Regions from separate parts of the Homo sapiens genome. Here region 2 is linked to region 1. The links come from fine-mapping of genetic effects on gene expression. A gene starts in region 1. The other region holds a variant in brackets. All regions are shown on one strand. Distances are from middle to middle.

The links. PIP is the estimated chance that this variant, and not a neighbour inherited with it, causes the effect.
Region 2: its variant is fine-mapped to the expression of PLCH2 in whole blood (TOPMed, PIP above 0.99).

The regions. Positions count from the first base shown.
Region 1 is chr1:2,472,476-2,480,793 of GRCh38, forward strand. It overlaps PLCH2 (phospholipase C eta 2), which reads left to right and starts at 3,814. Exons shown (of 22, transcript NM_014638.4): 1 at 3,814-4,237; 2 at 6,001-6,147; 3 at 7,259-7,502; 4 at 7,708-7,837. The coding sequence starts at 4,114.
Region 2 is chr1:2,419,698-2,428,015 of GRCh38, forward strand. It overlaps a transcript of PLCH2 not described here. Among named protein-coding and RNA genes, the nearest start is that of PEX10, 11 kb to the left of the region's middle. The variant T/C (reference allele first, on the strand shown) is at 4,087.

The sequences.
Region 1 (8,318 bases):
GCTGCAGGAGCATCTGGCCCTCATGCCTCACTGCTGCTGAGGTCCTTTGCTCTCCTAGCCCTGGGATGCGGCTGCCTCAGGGACTCTTGGTGGCCCTGGAGGGTGGGTAGGCTGGCCTGGGGGCCATTGGGACAGCAGGTGACGGTCAGGCCAATGCCAGCCGGGCCCAGGCACAGCCCTGTGGGGGCTTCAGAGGGAGACACGGGTGGGCCCAGGGAGGTCCTTTGAAATGTCCTGCTGAAAGGCAGCAAGCGTCGGGAGAGGAGGGGGCTTAGAGGCAGCCAGGGCCACCTCTGGACAGGCCTGGAAGAGGTGGGGCCCCTGCCCGTCCCGTACACGCTCGTGAAGGGAAGAGGTTGGTGGAGGGGCATGTGCAGTCCCCATGCCCCTGTCGTGGGAGGGGCTGCGGTACCCAAAGCTGCCCCGGGTGTGTGTGTACATGCCGGGAGGCCTGTGGGTGTGATTTGTGGGTTTTGTTGGAAGATTCATTATTTTCCAGCCTTCCCCAGGGGAGAGGCGGAGATGCTGAGCCACCGCTGGCCCCTTGTTGATGACAGCCGCGAGGCCCATGCTGCCTGCTGTGTTAGGACAAGATCGATCTCCGCCATAAAAACAAAATTAAGCCAACACCGCCCTGGCTTCTGACAGCGCGCGCTCTTCCTCTAATCAGCTGCCACCCGCCCGGTTCCAGCCTTGGGAAGAAAGGAAGGGGCTGCAGGAGCAAACCTCTCACAGTGGGGAAACTGAGGCACTGAGACAGGGAGGACAACCCAAGGTCGGGGGGCAGGCCCAGGACCCCTGCTTCCCAGCAGCCACCAGGGCCAGGCAGTCAGGGTGGGCCGGTGCAGCCCAGGTGCGGGGGCTGAGCCCAGGGGATCACGGGCGCATTCCTCTGCGTGTCACCGTGGGGCCCGCAGAGCCCTCCCATGCACTCTCCCCAACTGGGGTGCAGCCCCGTCTGCCCGTCTGTCCACCCATCCGCCCATCTGGGTGCATCTGTGTGGGAGGCTTCTCCAGGCCCAGGGCTGAAGCCGGCCAGACCCTTGAGAGCTGGACCCTGGACACCAGTGTGGACACTGGCTCCCGTCACCTCCTCAGAGCAGGCCTGGTGGCCTTAGCTGCCTCTGTCCTGCCCGTCCCTCCCTGTCCACCTGTGTCCAGCCAGCGCCTGCTACGTGTTGGATCATGGCCTCACAGGGACAGAGCAGGGAGGAGGACTTCGAGGTCCCTGCCCCAGGGATGTCCCGGGGTCAGGCAGTGCTCTGAGGACTGGGGAGCCCCACTGTGCTGTGCAGGGACCTGGGGGAGCAGCAGGTGAGCCAGGGCCCTCCTCTCCCCGACGGAGCCTATATCTGCCCGACCAGGACTGCCGGCCCTTCCCAGTCTGGCCTCTGGTGTGGGCCCACAGCCAGGTGCATTGCTACAATCCCACCTGAGCTCCCACATCAGGTGTCCTGGCTCAGGCTCACGGGAGGGGCCGAGGCGGCCTGGGGGTGGGTGTGGACCATGGCTGAGGGCTGGGCCCCTGTGTGGAACCACAGAGCAGAGCGTGGCTTCTTCGGCCTCCCTGTGGGCTTTCAGGATGGCCGGGCCCTGGCTCAGGGCAGGCAGGGTGAGCATGAGGGCCCGTCAGTGCAGGCTGTGGGGCTGGGCTCGCCTGCCGGCATGGGGGTGGGGCAGCCCCCTCCGTGACCTTGTGTGGGGGCTGGGCTGGGCCCTGGGCCGGCTCACAGGCAGCACGTGGGGAGGGGTTCTTAAGTCTCTGGGCCTGGGCCCCTGCCACGTCTCTTGGCCCGGGGCACCCCCGGCTTCACGCTGCAGCTGCGGTTCTGTGTCTGCCTGAGTTTTGGAGGGGAGTGGGCGGTCCCTTTGGACCTCAGGGCAGGCAGGGCAGCCCCCGGCAGAGGCCTGTGTCAGGAAGGGATTAGCCAGGCCTCCACCCGCCTGGACAGTTGAGGATTCCAGCTCTGCTGCTGAGGAGGTCAGGGGGCCTGGGGTGCAGGAGCCTGGGACCCACGTTGTGGGGCTGGGGCCAGGCACTCTATGTGTGGCTCCTCTCAGAACCCCTGCCCAGGCAGATGGCGGCCTCCAAGCCCTAACCCCAGCTGATGGGGGATCAGCTAGTGGCTGAGAGCTCAAGGGAGGGAGGGAGGGAGCAGAGGCCCAGCCTTGGGGAGCTTCAAGGAGGGATGGGTGAGAGACGGGAGCACCCCCAGCTGGGGCCAGGCCCAGGGTGAGGGAACAGCAGGTGTGTCCCAGGCCAGGAGGCCTCTGAGGTGCAGGAAGGAGAACTGGACCCCCTGGGTCAGAGTGGAAGCCCGCAGCAGCCCAGTATGAGGTGGGCAGGGGCCCTGGGCCAGGGCTATGGCCGTCTGGTCTGTCTCCAGGCCCTCAGGCCACCTCCTGGCCCCTGCGCTGCCCCTTACACGGTGGCCTTCCCCGAGGCCCTGTCTTCCTGAGGACGCCCGGGACTCCAGCCCCTCTCCTCTCCCTGCAGCTCATGGCTCCCTAATCTAATTCCACGGCAGAGCCCAGAAACGCCTGCTGACCTGCTTCCGCCGAGAGCAGCAGAGCCTGTGACGGGGCCCCTGGTGGGGGCCTGGGTTGGCTCTGTGCTGACTGCATCTGATCTGGCTGGGTGTGGCCCTGGTTGTCAGTGGTCAGCTGGAGACGCATGGCCATCTCCTCAGGGACTGCCACCTCCCACGCCTGACCTTGGCCCCGGGGCTCTGCCAGGATGCCCAGCCCTGGCACCTCCCTGTCCTGGGCTCTGCAGGCCAAACTCCTCCCCTGGTATGGGGGGAGGCGAGCAGCTGCCCGGAACCTTCCAGTCCTTGTTGCTGGAGCCAGTAGAGCCTGGGCAGTGGGTGGGAAGAAGGGCGGGGTTCTCCCCAGTGTGGTCACGAAGCATGGGCATGGCCAGGACACAGGTGGCTGGTGTTCAGCCGGGGTCTGCCCACCTCCCATTCCCACAGCTGCCCCTGGTGTCCCGGCCTGGACTTGGGGATGGGAGAGCCTGTGCTGTCCTGTAGTGCGGGGCCAGTACACAGGGTGGGCTGTGTGGTCCTGGTGGCAGTGGGACCTGGAGTCCTTTCCTCAGTGGGAGCTGAGACGGTGGGGTGGGTCCTCCTTGGGCGAGGCCCCTGTCCAGGTCAGATGGCTGTCATCCCTGCAGGGCAGAATGTGGGGACAAACGTGCCCTGGGCATGGGGCCACCTCCTCCGCCACAGCTCGGTGACCGTGGAGAAAGGTCAGGCTGGGGCTGCAGCTGCATGAGGGAGACATGGAGAGCCCAACCCAGGCTCAGGGACCCACATCCTGGGCCTGGGCTGGGAGTTGTCGCTGTAAGGGATCCGGCTCGGCTCCCCTCTCCAGCCACAGGGGCTGGGCGCTGCGGGGATGAGGTGAGCTTCTGCCCCTGCTCTGGGCCACCTGCCTCTGGACTTTGGGGATCCACTCAGAGGTCCTCATAAGTAGGGATGCGGGGTGAGGGCAGGGACCACTCCAGGCCCAGCCTCGGCATCTGTGGTGGGCGCACAGCGGGGAGGCCCACCCCACACAGGGTCCTCGGAGGACAGTACCCTGCAGGCCTTCCGGTTGCGTTCTCTGGGTCCCAGGAGGGCCCTCCCGTTGGTCCTGCTCTTGTCCCGCAGCCCTGACCTGGGTCTGGTGGCCTGGGGCCTTGGGAAACTCTGTTGCCTCCCCAGTGCCCTCCCATCCCCAGCTGGGAGTTCCCTCGGCCTAAATCCTCCACCAGCTGGGCTGGAGCTGGGATTAGCACAGGGATTGGGCCTGGGGCTGGGCGGGGCTGAGGTCCTTTGCTCCCCCAGCCTTGGGAGGCGGCTGCGTCAGGGATTCCTTGGTGGCCCTGGAGGGTGGATAGGCTGGCCTGGGGGCCATCAGGACAGCAGGTGACGGTCAGGCCAATGCCAGCCGGGCCTGGGCACAGCCCTGTGGGGGCTTCGGAGGGCCCTGAGGAGGAGGAGGAAGAGGCAGAGGAGAGAAGGCCCCACGGAGGTCCTGTCGCCAGCGCTGCCACTGCCTGACCTCCGCTGCCCGAAGGCCGGTGGGCCTCTGTGGCCTCCGTGAAGCAGGCCCGGCTGTCGTCAGGCCATGTCTGGTCCATGGCCCTCCCCCGACAGCCGGACCAAGGGAACGGTGGCCTGGCTGGCGGAGGTACTCCTCTGGGTTGGAGGGAGTGTGGTGCTGTCTTCAGAGTGGCAGCTCGGCCCCCTGGGTAAGAAGGGGCAGGCGAGTGGCCTGGGCTGAGTGCTGGCCCTGGCCAGGTGACTGGTGGGTGGGGGCTGTTCCTGGAGGTGGGGGAAGCCTGGGCCTCCATCCCATCCTGCACTCGCCTCCCCTGTCCCCCGGGTGCTCTAGGGATCATGTGGGTCCAGCAGCGTCGGCTGGCCCTGCCCCTCAGCCGCTCAGAGGCGTGCTCAGCACACCTCGGTCTCCCAGGCACCTGCAGGGCCTGGGGGCTGAACCCAAGGGGGCGAGGGGGGATCTCAGGTGGCTCCAATGCTCTCATTGAAGGGGTGCCTTGTGCTCTGGGGGTCAGTGGTGCTTGCAGCCCAGGCGGCTGGGCTGGCATCCTGGTGCCGGACATGAGGGCCTTTGCCGTTAGGAGACTCTGCAGAGGAGACTGGCTGGGTATGGCTGGGAGGGTGGAGTGTGTGTCTTGTGGTGGCCTGTGGAGGGCCCCGGTCCGGGCTGGCCTGCCAGCTCTCTGTTCCAGCGGCAGACAGGGTCCTGTCCAGGCTGCCCTGTTGCAGGCCTCTGCCCGCCCCCTGCCCCTGTGTCCTGCCTCACCCCTCTCCTAAATCCCTGCAGCCATACCTGCGTCTTCACCTCCCATGTGCCCCGGAGAGCCCAGCCCCCCATGCCATGGCTTCCATCCCTTCAATTCCCCTCTGCTCGTGATCACGTAGTAGCTTCCCCAAGAAGGCCCGGCCAGTACTGCCCTTGGTCCTCTACAACGCCCCCGCCAGGGTCCCTCAGCGTGCAGACCTGGGGTGGGGATTAACGTCTCTGTGCTTTAGCAGATGGTACCTCTGGGACCCGGGCTTTCTGTGAGCAGGTGTGCAGGAACCGAGGGGGTGAGACCAGTCTGTTCCTGGGCTGGGACAGCTGACTCTGGCCTGGACTCCCTGGACCCTGCAGCCCCCTCTCCTGGGACAAGCTACAGCAGGAGGCTGAATGGAGAGAGGAGGGGAGAGAAGGAGCGAGGCAGGCAGCCTGGGGGAGGGGAGGGGAGGGGTTGTGAAGCTCGGATCCGGCACCACAGCCTCCCAAGTCCATACTGCAGTGCAGGGCGTGCGACGCAGACATTCATGGCACCATTCGTGGCGCTTGTTGCACATGAGGGGTGGGGGCTTTCCTGGAGATGCCCCAGGCAGGGGCACAGGCACTCAGGAATTCGACCGCTCCCAGGAGCCACCTGTGGCCAGGGGCGGGGGCAGGGGCATGGGGTTGCTGCCTGCTAGGCCCACCCCGCCCCTGACAAGGGGCCTCCACTGCACTATGGCCCCAGACAGCCAGCCCAGCCACCTCATCTGTCTTGCCTCGTGCCCGGCCTTCCCATTGTTGAGTTCTGTGCTGGCTCCGTCTGAGTGGTAGCTCTCGGGGCCCCAGGCCCAGCGCCGGTTACCAGGGCTGCTAGGACTGGTCCAGGAGGTGGTGGGAGTGGCAGGTGGCCGAGCAGGGTGGGGAGCAGGGCCCTCAGTTCCCAGGACCATCTGGGGAGGAGTGGCAGGGCCCAGCTGAGCTGTGTGACCCAGGCAAGCCGGCACCTGGGGTGGAGGTGGCCCTGGGCTCTGGCCTTTGCCCTGTCACTGGCAGGGCGGTGTGGGCGGGGCCGGGCGAGGTGAGGAGTGGCCGTGCCTCCGCTGACGGCCGTGTTTCTCCCGTGAGGAGTGGCCGTGCCTCCGCTGACGGCCGTGTCTCTCCTGCGAGGAGTGGCTGTGCCTCCGCTGACAGCCGTGTCTCTCCCGTGTCCAGTGGAGCGGTGCATGGGTGCCATGCAAGAGGGGATGCAGATGGTGAAGCTGCGTGGCGGCTCCAAGGGCCTGGTCCGCTTCTACTACCTGGACGAGCACCGCTCCTGCATCCGCTGGAGGCCCTCACGCAAGAACGAGAAGGCCAAGAGTGAGTGGGAGCCCTGGGGTGGGGACAAATCAGAGTCCCTGGGGGGACACGACGGTAGGGACCCTCCCAGGGCAGCCACTGATGGCTGAGGAGCAGCGAGACCCTAGGCCTGGACACCTCTGGGCTCAGTGGCCTTGGGGATCTGCAGTGACCTCGGGCTGTGGGGTAGGAGGGATCCAGGCCCCCTGCCCGCCTGGCAGAGCTCCCTGGGACTCAGTGAGGACCGAGTAGCACTGTGCCCAGCCCTGTGCTGAGTGCTGGGCTGGAAGGAGGGGCACAGCATAGTCCATCTAGCTGGGGAGGTCACAGCTCCCCATAAACAGAAACGACCCCCACAGAGGTATGCTGATGGATGGGTATGGGTGCAAACAGTGGCTCAGGCAGCCACTGGGCATGGCTGCTGGAGGGAGCAGGGGCCACCCGAGATGGAGGCTCTGTGCAGGGGGTGGGTGGGGAGAGTTGAGGCACACAGGGAACGGGTAGGGTCCCACGGTTTGGGGAGAGACATGGCAGTCCTCAAGGGCTGGGATCAGGGCGCAGCCAGGGTTTCTGATGGCTTTGCTGATGGTCAGGACCCAGGCATGCCAGGCAAGGCCTCAGCCCAGCAGTTGCCAAGCGTGTAGCCACTTTGGGCCCGTGGAGAGAGTCGCGCTGCGGAGCCCCCAGGGGGACCTGAGGTCACAAGAGCCTCGATGCACCTGAGCGCGGAGCTGGGGGTCCCTGGAGCCGCTGTCCCCACCTGCGGCGCTGGAGCCCTGGAGGTGTCCAGGGGCTTCCTTGGAACGTGGAGACGTGCTGGTTAAACGTGGAGCCCCGGGCCAGCCGGGCACTGGGGGCTGCAGGTGGAGGGAGGTGGATGCTCTCCCTCGTGGGGGCGTGTCTTTTCCACAGGAAAGGGAAAGGGGGAGGGACACGGGTCAGCAGTGGGGGGCTGTGCAGTCTCGCAGATCTTCACCCTTGGTTCTTGAACTCTGGACCCTGAGCCCTGCCGAGGGTCCCGCAAAGGTGGGCAAGGAGCTCCCGGCTGCTTGGTCTCCGCAGTGTTGGGGCTGCCAGCAGGGGGACGCTGGGCCCCCGGGGACCTGACCCGTGCTCCCTCCCCACCCCGCAGTCTCCATCGACTCCATCCAGGAGGTGAGTGAGGGGCGGCAGTCGGAGGTCTTCCAGCGCTACCCTGACGGCAGCTTCGACCCCAACTGCTGCTTCAGCATCTACCACGGCAGCCACCGCGAGTCGCTGGACCTGGTCTCCACCAGCAGCGAGGTGGCGCGCACCTGGGTCACTGGCCTGCGCTACCTCATGGCCGGCATCAGCGACGAGGACAGCCTGGCTCGCCGCCAGCGCACCAGGGACCAATATCCTTGGGCACCTATCGGGCAATGCAGACCCAGGGACCGGCCCCTTGGCTGCTCACCCTGGGGGGGCCTGTCCTTTGCCGGGTCACACACTGGGGAAGTGGCCGGTAGGCTGGGGTCCCCTATTCCTTCCTCCCTAGGCCAGAGGGTGGAGGTGTCAGGGCTGGGCCCATGGATCGCTGTTGGCCCCTAACTCGGCACCAAAGTGGCTGAAGCAGACGTTTGACGAGGCCGACAAGAACGGGGATGGCAGCCTGAGCATTGGCGAGGTCCTGCAGCTGCTGCACAAGCTCAACGTGAACCTGCCCCGGCAGAGGGTGAAGCAGATGTTCAGGGTGAGCTGGGGGGAGCCCTACCTGGGCTCCAGAGCCAGGGCTGCACGGGGGCTGTGCTTGTGTGGCTGGGAGCCTGCCAGCCCTGACTGAGCTGGAGGGGACCCTGGCAGTGCCCTCAAGCTGCACAGAGTAGCTGGCTGCTGAGGATGGGGCTGTCTGACCAGCCACCCCACAGCCTATGGCAGGCAGGCAGGTGGGTGCCCAGGTGCTGCCTCTTTGCAGCTGGGCCGGGGGCTGCTCTGCCAGCTCTGGGGAAAGTGGTCGGGGCACCTGGCACAGGCCCTGCCAGGTGAGTGGACTGGGCATTCAGGGCAGGTGCCCAAATGAAGCTGCACCCCCTTCCCAGGCCCCAGCCCCGCAGCCTCGAGGGGGGTACACCAGCCCTGGCAGGGCCCAGTCTGATGCGCAGCAGCTCGTTACTTTCCCCATGCCGCCCTCGCCCAACCACCCTGATGTTAGGAGTTATGAAAATGCAGCCTTC
Region 2 (8,318 bases), 53 kb before region 1:
GCCAGCTTTGAGGAGGCGCTGCTGGCTCTGGTGGAGGTGGTGACATGGGGCTCTGGAGACTTGGGGGCCGCTCATCCTTCTTCCTGTGGGCTCCACCATATTCATCCTTGGGGGATTAATCTGAAGCTGTCCGTAGAAGCTGGACTGGGACCCTCAAGCCAGCCCTGGGCTGGGGCCAGCCAGGCCCTTTCTGCCTCGGAACTGCTGCACCTGCTGCCCGTAGTCGGCTCTTGCCAACTCAAAGTTCAAGCATAGCAGGCCAAGTCCCCCCCCCACCCCCAGGCAACCCCTTTGTGCGCTCCCCCCACTACCCCCTCCTGTGCTGCCTCCCCAGTAGCCTGGGTACAGCTATGGGGGTGGGGGCAGGCACAGCAACAGTAACCTGCCTCCCCACTCCCCGCCATCTCTGGTCATTGGTCAGGAGCTCATCAGTGCTGAGTTAAGGACTCAGACAGGCCCCCCGCCCCAGCCCCTACCTCACATCCCTCTCAGCTGACCCCAACTCCTCCCCAAGACTTGGATCCCAAAGGAGCCAGTGTCTGGGGGGCATCCAGGCAGCACCTACCTCTTGTCCTTCCTCCCGCTGCTCGATTCCACTTTCAGCCCCCTGCCCTGTGATTTCAGGACAAAGCTTCCCAGGTGCAGGTCTGAAAGCTTCCACCTCCTTCGAGAGGTGGGTGTGGGGGCCTGTGGGGCCCAGTGATGCTGGCAAGGGGAGAAGGTCCAGGCAGGGGCGGGGTTGCGGATCCACAGTGGGATGCGGGGCTGAACGGTTATGTCCCGGTAGGTAGGGGCTGCAGAAAGAGCCCCGAGGGCTGGGGAGTCCCGGAGCTGGACCACAGGAAGGGCCTCAAGTCCGCCTGCCAGGTCCAGCTTCTCAGGACCCCAGGGCTGGGGCACACTCTTTGCACCCCGCTTTACAGATGAGGAAACTGAGTCAGAGAGGGAGAGTTTAAGGGCAGGCTTCAAGCTGACCTCTGACCCAGAGACCCCCATTTTGAAAAATCTCCTCTTCAGGCCTCAGGCCTGGAGGGCTGTGGGAGTCGCTCCTCTCTCGATTGGAGGGTGGAGTGAGTGATCGATCGATTCATTGCCTTTACCCACATCAGTATCTCTTCCCCCTTGGGACTCCTTCTGAGGAGCGTTGAGTGTGTATCTCGTTTTTTGTATTTTCCAGAATGCTGTGTTGTTCTGGTGCGAGTATTTTAATCACTATTAGTGGGGTGCAAATGTTTTGGCCTTAGTATCCCTTCACACTTTTTTTTTTTTTTTTGAGACAGAGTCTCACCCAGGCTGGAGTGCAGTGGTGCGATCTCGGCTCACTGCAACCTCTGCTTCCCGGGTTCAATCGATTTTCCTGCCTCAGCCTCCTGAGTAGCTGAGATTACAGGCATGCGCCACCACGCCTGGCTAATTTTTGTATTTTTAGTAGAGACGGAATTTCACCACGTTGGCCAGGCTGGTCTCGAACTCCTGACATCAGATGATCCACCCTCCTTGGCCTCCCAAAGTGCTGGGGTTACAGACGTGAGCCACTGCATCTGGCCCCAACACTCTTAGCAGCTGTTGAGAAGCCCAAGGAGCTTTGGTTTTGGGGTGCTGTCTGTAGTGTGTGCTGGAGCAGGCTTGCACGTGCTCACCAGAACCTACGGTAGCATCTCCAGTAATCTCATCAGCTGGTTGTTGGACACAACCATTATTCAAATCAAATTAAAGTAATTAAATTATGTAAAACACAGAAATACTATAAAAAGCAAAGGAAATAAATACTCAAAATGTATTGCTTCCTAATTATTTCTAGCTTACTGTGATCCACGCTGTTATCTGGGTGCAGTCTGTGTGTGTCTGTCTAGTGGAAATGCCGTATGATACTGTCCATCTCTTCCCCACTCTGTGCTCTGTGGGCTCAAGTGGGAATATTTACACCACATGTTTACACCACCTTCATAAAAAAATATGAAAATATTCATGAAGTCTTATTGAAAATAACAACGGGCCAGGCACAGTGGTTCACACCTGTAATCCCAGCACATTGGGAGGTCAAGGCAGGAGGATCACCTGAGGCCAGGAGTTTGAGACCAGCCTGGCCAACATGGTGAAACCCCGTCTCTACTAAAAATACAAAAATTAGCTGGGCGTGGTGGCGCATGCCTGTAATCTCAGCTACACAGGAGGCTGAGGCGGGAGAATTGCTTGAACCTGGGAAGCAGAGGCTGCAGTGAGCCAAGATCACGCCACTACACTCCAGCCCAGGCGACGGAGCAAGACTTTATCTCAAAAAAAGAAGAAAAGGCCAGGCGCAGTGGCTCACGCCTGTAATCCCAGCACTTTGGGAGGCTGAAGGAGGAGGATCACCTGAGGCCAGGAGTTTGAGACCATCCTGGCCAACATGGAAACCATGTCTCTACTAAAAATACAAAAATTAGCCGGGCATGGTGGCAGGTGCCTGTAATCTTAGCTACTCGGGAGGCTGAGGCAGGAGAATCGCTTGAACCCAGGAGGTGGAAGTTGCAGTGAGCCGAGATCGCGCCAGTGCACTCCAGCCTGGAGGACAGTGCAAGACTCCACCTCAAAAAACAAACAAACAAACAAAAACCCATAAACTAATGACATGTTAATAGAAATAACACGTTAACATTTTATGAAAAATACTTTCAAAACAAAAAAATCCAGTGAGAAGAGGGACGTGGCTTTGCAGTTTTGCAGTCTCTTGAATGTTTGTCTGCATCTGCGTTGCATCTGTCGCAGTGTGTTTTGGTTGAAATCAGTGAAGAGATCTGGCCTCACAGGGCTGAGCCGCCTTTTCAGGTAATCATGGACACTCTTCTCTGATGGTACACCCGGACTGGATGAATGGTAGAGTTTCTTACAGGTTGTTGCGATAACAGAATCTGAAACCGTGCCAATGGACTTTTTGTATTGTTACATTATCATCTGTTGTGTTACATTATCATCTGTTGGTCTGTTTTTACTTTGTTTTTTGTTTTTGTTATGTTTTGAGAAAGGGTCTTGCTCTGTTGCCCAGGCTGGAGTGCAGTGGTACCATCATAGCTCACTGTGGCCTCAAACTCCTGGCCTCAAGTGATCCTCCCACCTTAGCCTCCTAATGTGTTGGGATTACAGGCATGAGCCGCTGTACCTGGCCCTGTTTTTCACTTTGAGTGGAAATTTACCTGTGCATAATTTTGGAAGACCATGTTTTGGTATTAATAATTTGAAAAATATTGGTTTACTGAGTTATGCAGATTTTTCAAATCTTGACACGTTTTATTAAATATTATCCCAAAATCACATTACTATCACCCCGATCTCACGATAAAAGCCTTTAAATATTTGGAAGCTGATAGACTCACAGTGATGAATACAAGTTTTCCAAAATGCTGATTTTTACCTAAGCCTGAATTTTATTATTGGCAACAGATCCTGCAATTTGCTGTTTTGTGTTGTTTTGGAGAGGGTTTTATTTAGTTTTTTTGTTTGTTTGTTTGTTTGTTGTTTGTTTGTTTTAGAGACAAGGTCTTGCTCTGTCCCCCACGCTGGAATGCAGTGGCACCATCACAGTTCACCGTAACCTCGAACTCCTGGGCTGAAGCAATCCTCCTGCCTCAGCTTCCTGAGTAGCTGGGACCACAGGCACATCCCCCCACACCCAGCTATTTTTTTTAAAGAGATGGGATCTTGCTCTGTTGTCCCTGCTGTTCTTGTTACAAGGCCACCAGGTTGGTGTGCCCTCTGCACAGTAACCAACCGATACACGGAGACAGCAGGGTTTGCAGCAGAGAAAGCTTAATGATTGCAGGTGCCAAGCAAGGAGATGGGAGGAGACCCTCAAATCCACCTCCCCTGGAGTTCTGGGCTGGGGTTCTTAAGGAGATTATGGAGGGTGAGGGGCTGGAGAAGCTGGGGTCACTGACTTGTTGGGGTAAGGGGGATGAAATCAGGAGGTGGAAAATGCATTTGCTGGTGAGTCAGCTCCTGTGAGGTCCTTCCCACCAGCTGGCATCAGTAATTTTACTGTTATGCAGGACCTGAAAGAGCATCTCAGATGGAAATCAACCTTTTACAATGTTTAAGTTGTTCTCTCTA[T/C]GGTAGTTAGGGGAACTATGATCTTGGGACGGGGTCTGTGTGATTCTGGGGCAGTAGGCAGCAACAGTTATGAGGAGAGGTCAGAGAGCCAGCCCACCTCGTCGTGACGCTGCCTGCACCACCAGCTTAGTTCATTTTCCCTTCTCCCCCTCCCTTCTTCTCTGAATAATTTTATAAAGTTTACAGGGGTGATTTCAGCCTCAAACCCTGTCTTCAAGTGGTGCTCCCACCCTGGCCTCCCAGCATGAGCCTCTGTGCCCGGCCTGTTTATTTTTAAATTTCATTTTTAAAAGTATATATTTGACAGATTATAGTTGTATATATTTATGAGGTAGATAGTGATGTTATGATTTTTAAATACAATCATTTCAGTTTAAATCAAGCTAATTAACATAACCATCACCTCAGATATTTACCATCTTTTGTGGTGAGAACATTTGACATGTACTCTTAGCAGTTTTGAAATGCACGAAACTCTATTATTAATTATATTCACCATGCTGCACAACAGAACTAAAAAATTCCCCCAAACCACAAAACATACCCTTCCTGTCTAACTGAGGCCTGGCACCCTTTGGCCATCATCTCCCCATTCCCCAAACCCTGGCCTCTAGGGACCAGCTTTCTACCCTGCTTCTATGAGCTCAGGTGTTTTAGATTCTACATATAAGTGAGAAGATGTGGTATTTGTCTCCTGTGGTTTGGCTTATATCACTTAACTTGATGTTCTCCAGTTCCATCCATGTTGTTGAAAATGACAGAATTTCTTCCTTTTTAAAGGCTGAGGCCAGGTGCGGTGGCTCACAGCTATAATCCCAGCACTTTGGGAGGCTGGGGCAGGCAGATCACTTGAGATCAGGAGTTTGAGACCAGCCTGGCCAACATGGCAAAACCCCATCTCTACTAAAAATACACAAAATTAGGCCGGGCGCGGTGGCTCATGCCTGTAATCCCAGCACTTTGGGAGGCCAAGGCGGGCGGATCACGAGGTCAGGAGATCGAGACCATCCTGGCTAACACAGTGAAACCCTGTCTCTACTAAAAATAAAAAAATTAGCTGGGCATGGTGGCGGGCGCCTGTAGTCCCAGTTACTCGGGAGGCTGAGGCAGGAGAATGGTGTGGACCCGGGAGGCGAAGGTTGCAGTGAGCTGAGATTGCTCCACTGCACTCCATCCTGGGCAACAGAGCAAGACTCCGTCTCAAAAAAACAAAAAACAAAAAACACAAAATTAGACGTGCGTGGTGGCGGCCACCTGTAATCCCAGCTACTCAGGAGGCTGAGGCAGGAGAATCACTTGAACCCAGGAGGCGGAGGCTGCAGTGAGCGGAGATCGCGCCACCGCACTCCAGCCTAGGCGATAGAGTGTGACACTCCGTCTCAAAAAAAAAAAAAAAAAAAGCTGAATAGTATTTCGTTGCTTGGGCGCATGCACACACACACATATTTACACACACATATGTAACACACACATACATACACACATATACACACACATATATACACATGCACAGATACACATATACATACACACATATACACACACATACACCCCCCCACACACATTTTCTGTATCCACTCATCCACTGATGGACACTCAGGCTGATTCTGTAACTCGGCTGTTGTGAACAGTGTGGCAGTGGACATGGAAATGCAGGTCTCTTCAACACGTGGATTTCATTTCCTTTGGGAGTATATGCAGGAGTGGGGTTGCTGGATCTGCTCTGCTGGTTTTTAGGTGGCAGGCTTTAGACAGGGTCTGCCTCTGTTGCCAAGGTTGGAGTGCAGTGGCATGATCTTGGCTGACTGCAATTTCTGCCTTCTGTGCTCAAGTGATTCTCCTGCCTCAGACCCCCAAGTAGCCGGGATTACAGGCACGTACCACCGCGCCTGGCTAATTTTGGTGTGTTTTTTTTTTTTTTGTAGAGATGGAGTTTCACCATGTTGCCCAGGCTGGTCTGAAACTCCTCAGTTGAGCAATCCACCTGCCTTGGCCTCCCAAAGTTCTGGGATGACAGGAGTGAGGCACTGCGCTGGGCTCATGCATTTTTGAGGAAATACCTATGCAGCACACGGCCGGCAGCACCACAGTGTCTCAGCTGTCTTTCCAGGAAAGTCCTGCTCCCCACTATACTGTGGGTCCCCCGGCTAATTCAGCTGGAGTCCCCGTCGCTCGAGAGCCTCCTCCCAGGAAAACGCCCTTTGCTGCGGCAGCTTTCTGTTCTCCCTGGCTCCCTGCACGGAACTGAGCTTTGGTACAGTTCATCATTTGTGCTGTTTCAACAAAGACCTTCTTAGGGAAATGGCCTCTTCTCTGCTTTAATTCTGAGCACGCACTGGTGAAGGACACTGTATCTGAGCCGAGGCCCAGGGTGTCACCCATCAGAGCCTTTCACCATCTGTGCAGATGTCAGCGCGGGGAAGGGACACCTCCTTTACATAAAAACAGCTTAGACCTTGCAGGCTCCTGGAAGATTCTGAGGACCCCAGGGTTATGTGGGCCACACTCTGGGGAGCAGTGTCTATGGCCCCGTGTTTGGCCAAGCACCCCGTTCTGATCTTTACTTTCTCCACCTGGCACTAAGCTTCCCCTTCTTGCTTCTAACACTGAGTGGGGCTCCGGGGTGTCCCCCACCCCATGGCCTCCCAAAGTCCCTGGTTCGGGGCTGCCGTGAGCAGCCTCCTGAGTCCCCATGGGGTCCTGGGGGCCTTTCCCTCCGGGTCAGAGTGGCGGAGTCCCCGGCCTACACACACGAGCTCGGCCCAGTGCTCCCACGCTGACCTAGGGCTGGCCCCTCGCGGTCTTCCCTTCCCTTGTCAAACACCCCTCCCTCTGTCTCCAGAGTGCCGGCGAGCTGGGCGGGCTCCACTCCCTCCATGAAGCTGGCCCCTGAGCGCAGATGTGCAGGCTGGCATTCCTGCCCGCTGTGAGCATGGAGGGGCCTGGCCTCAGCCTCGCACTTCCTGACACGGTTGTGGGGTCGGGGCTGCTGGGTTCTTTGTCTCCCTGTGCGGCCAGGCCAGCAGGTGGGCGTAGCCAGGCGGGCTCCAGCAACCCCACCAGCTTGGGGGCAGCGGCTGAGCTTGCTGGGGCCTGTGGCTTCTCCGGGGCCTTAGGTCTGTGTTCCCTGCATCCGCTAAGTCCAGGGGTGGGAGCAGGGCCTCACAGAGGGGCCTTGGGCTGGGAGAGTGGGGAGGACTGTGGGCAGCCAGTGGCCCCTGGCAGAGTGGCAGAGGCCCAGCCATAGGCTCACTGGCATGGGGCCTGGTCTGCCTCCTATGCCCAGGACGTCTTGGCCGGGGGTCTCCATACCTGGGACCCACGTTCAGCCTGGAGACGGAAGTCAGGGTAGCAGGGAAGTAGCAGGAGGTGGCCTCTGTGTGACAGCGGGTGCCGGCGGCTAGGGGCCCACCGGGTGGAGCTCCTGGGGGCGTTGAGGAGCTGGGCAGTGGGCTGCAGTGGGGCGCCCTGGGGCCAGGAGGGCAGCTGGGGCAGGCAGGCTGTCCCCTCACCCTCTGGGTCTCTCGTGGGGGCCCGGGGCCGCAGGTCTGGGACGAGTCAGGTGCTGGGGGCAGCCGAACCCGCCCCAGCTCAGCCGCCCCTGCTGGTGGTTTCTCCGGGATAGGGTCCTGCCCTCTCTGGGCCTCAATCTCTCCCTCCTGAGAGTGGACTCTCTTGTGGGCTGGGTGGCCAGTGGGGCCTCAGGCCAGGAGGGAGAGGGAGCCCCTCTGTGACATCTTTCCTGGAGAGGCTGAGGCTCCCACTTCTACCTGCCCTCAGGGGGCTTCCTGAGCCAGGGGATACCAGCCAAGGGTGTGGCACCCCACTTCCTGGGCACTGCCGCAGAAGGTGGGAGGGAGGATGGGAGGATGTCAGAGGAGCAGGCCGGGGCTTGTGGGGGCCTCCGGTACCTCTGCTGGGAGCTCGCGATCCAAGGGACACAGCGTGAGGGGCCACCGCAGGTATTGAAACAGAAGCAGCCGGCGAGCCCTCCAGAAGTGGGAGCCCTCCAGAAGTGGGAGCCCTCCGGGGGTGGGAGCCCTCCAGGGGTGGGAGCCGGCTTGGACTCGCTGGCCCTGAGCAGGTACCTGGGCTCTCCCTGTGGGTGAGAGCAGTGGGCGGGCAGGCTGGGAACTTAGGGCTGTAGGACCTGCTGAGTGGGTGACACTTCATCCTCCGGGGGCTTCGAGGGCAGAGGTCCCTGCCTAGAGGAAGATCTGCTGGTCTGTGTG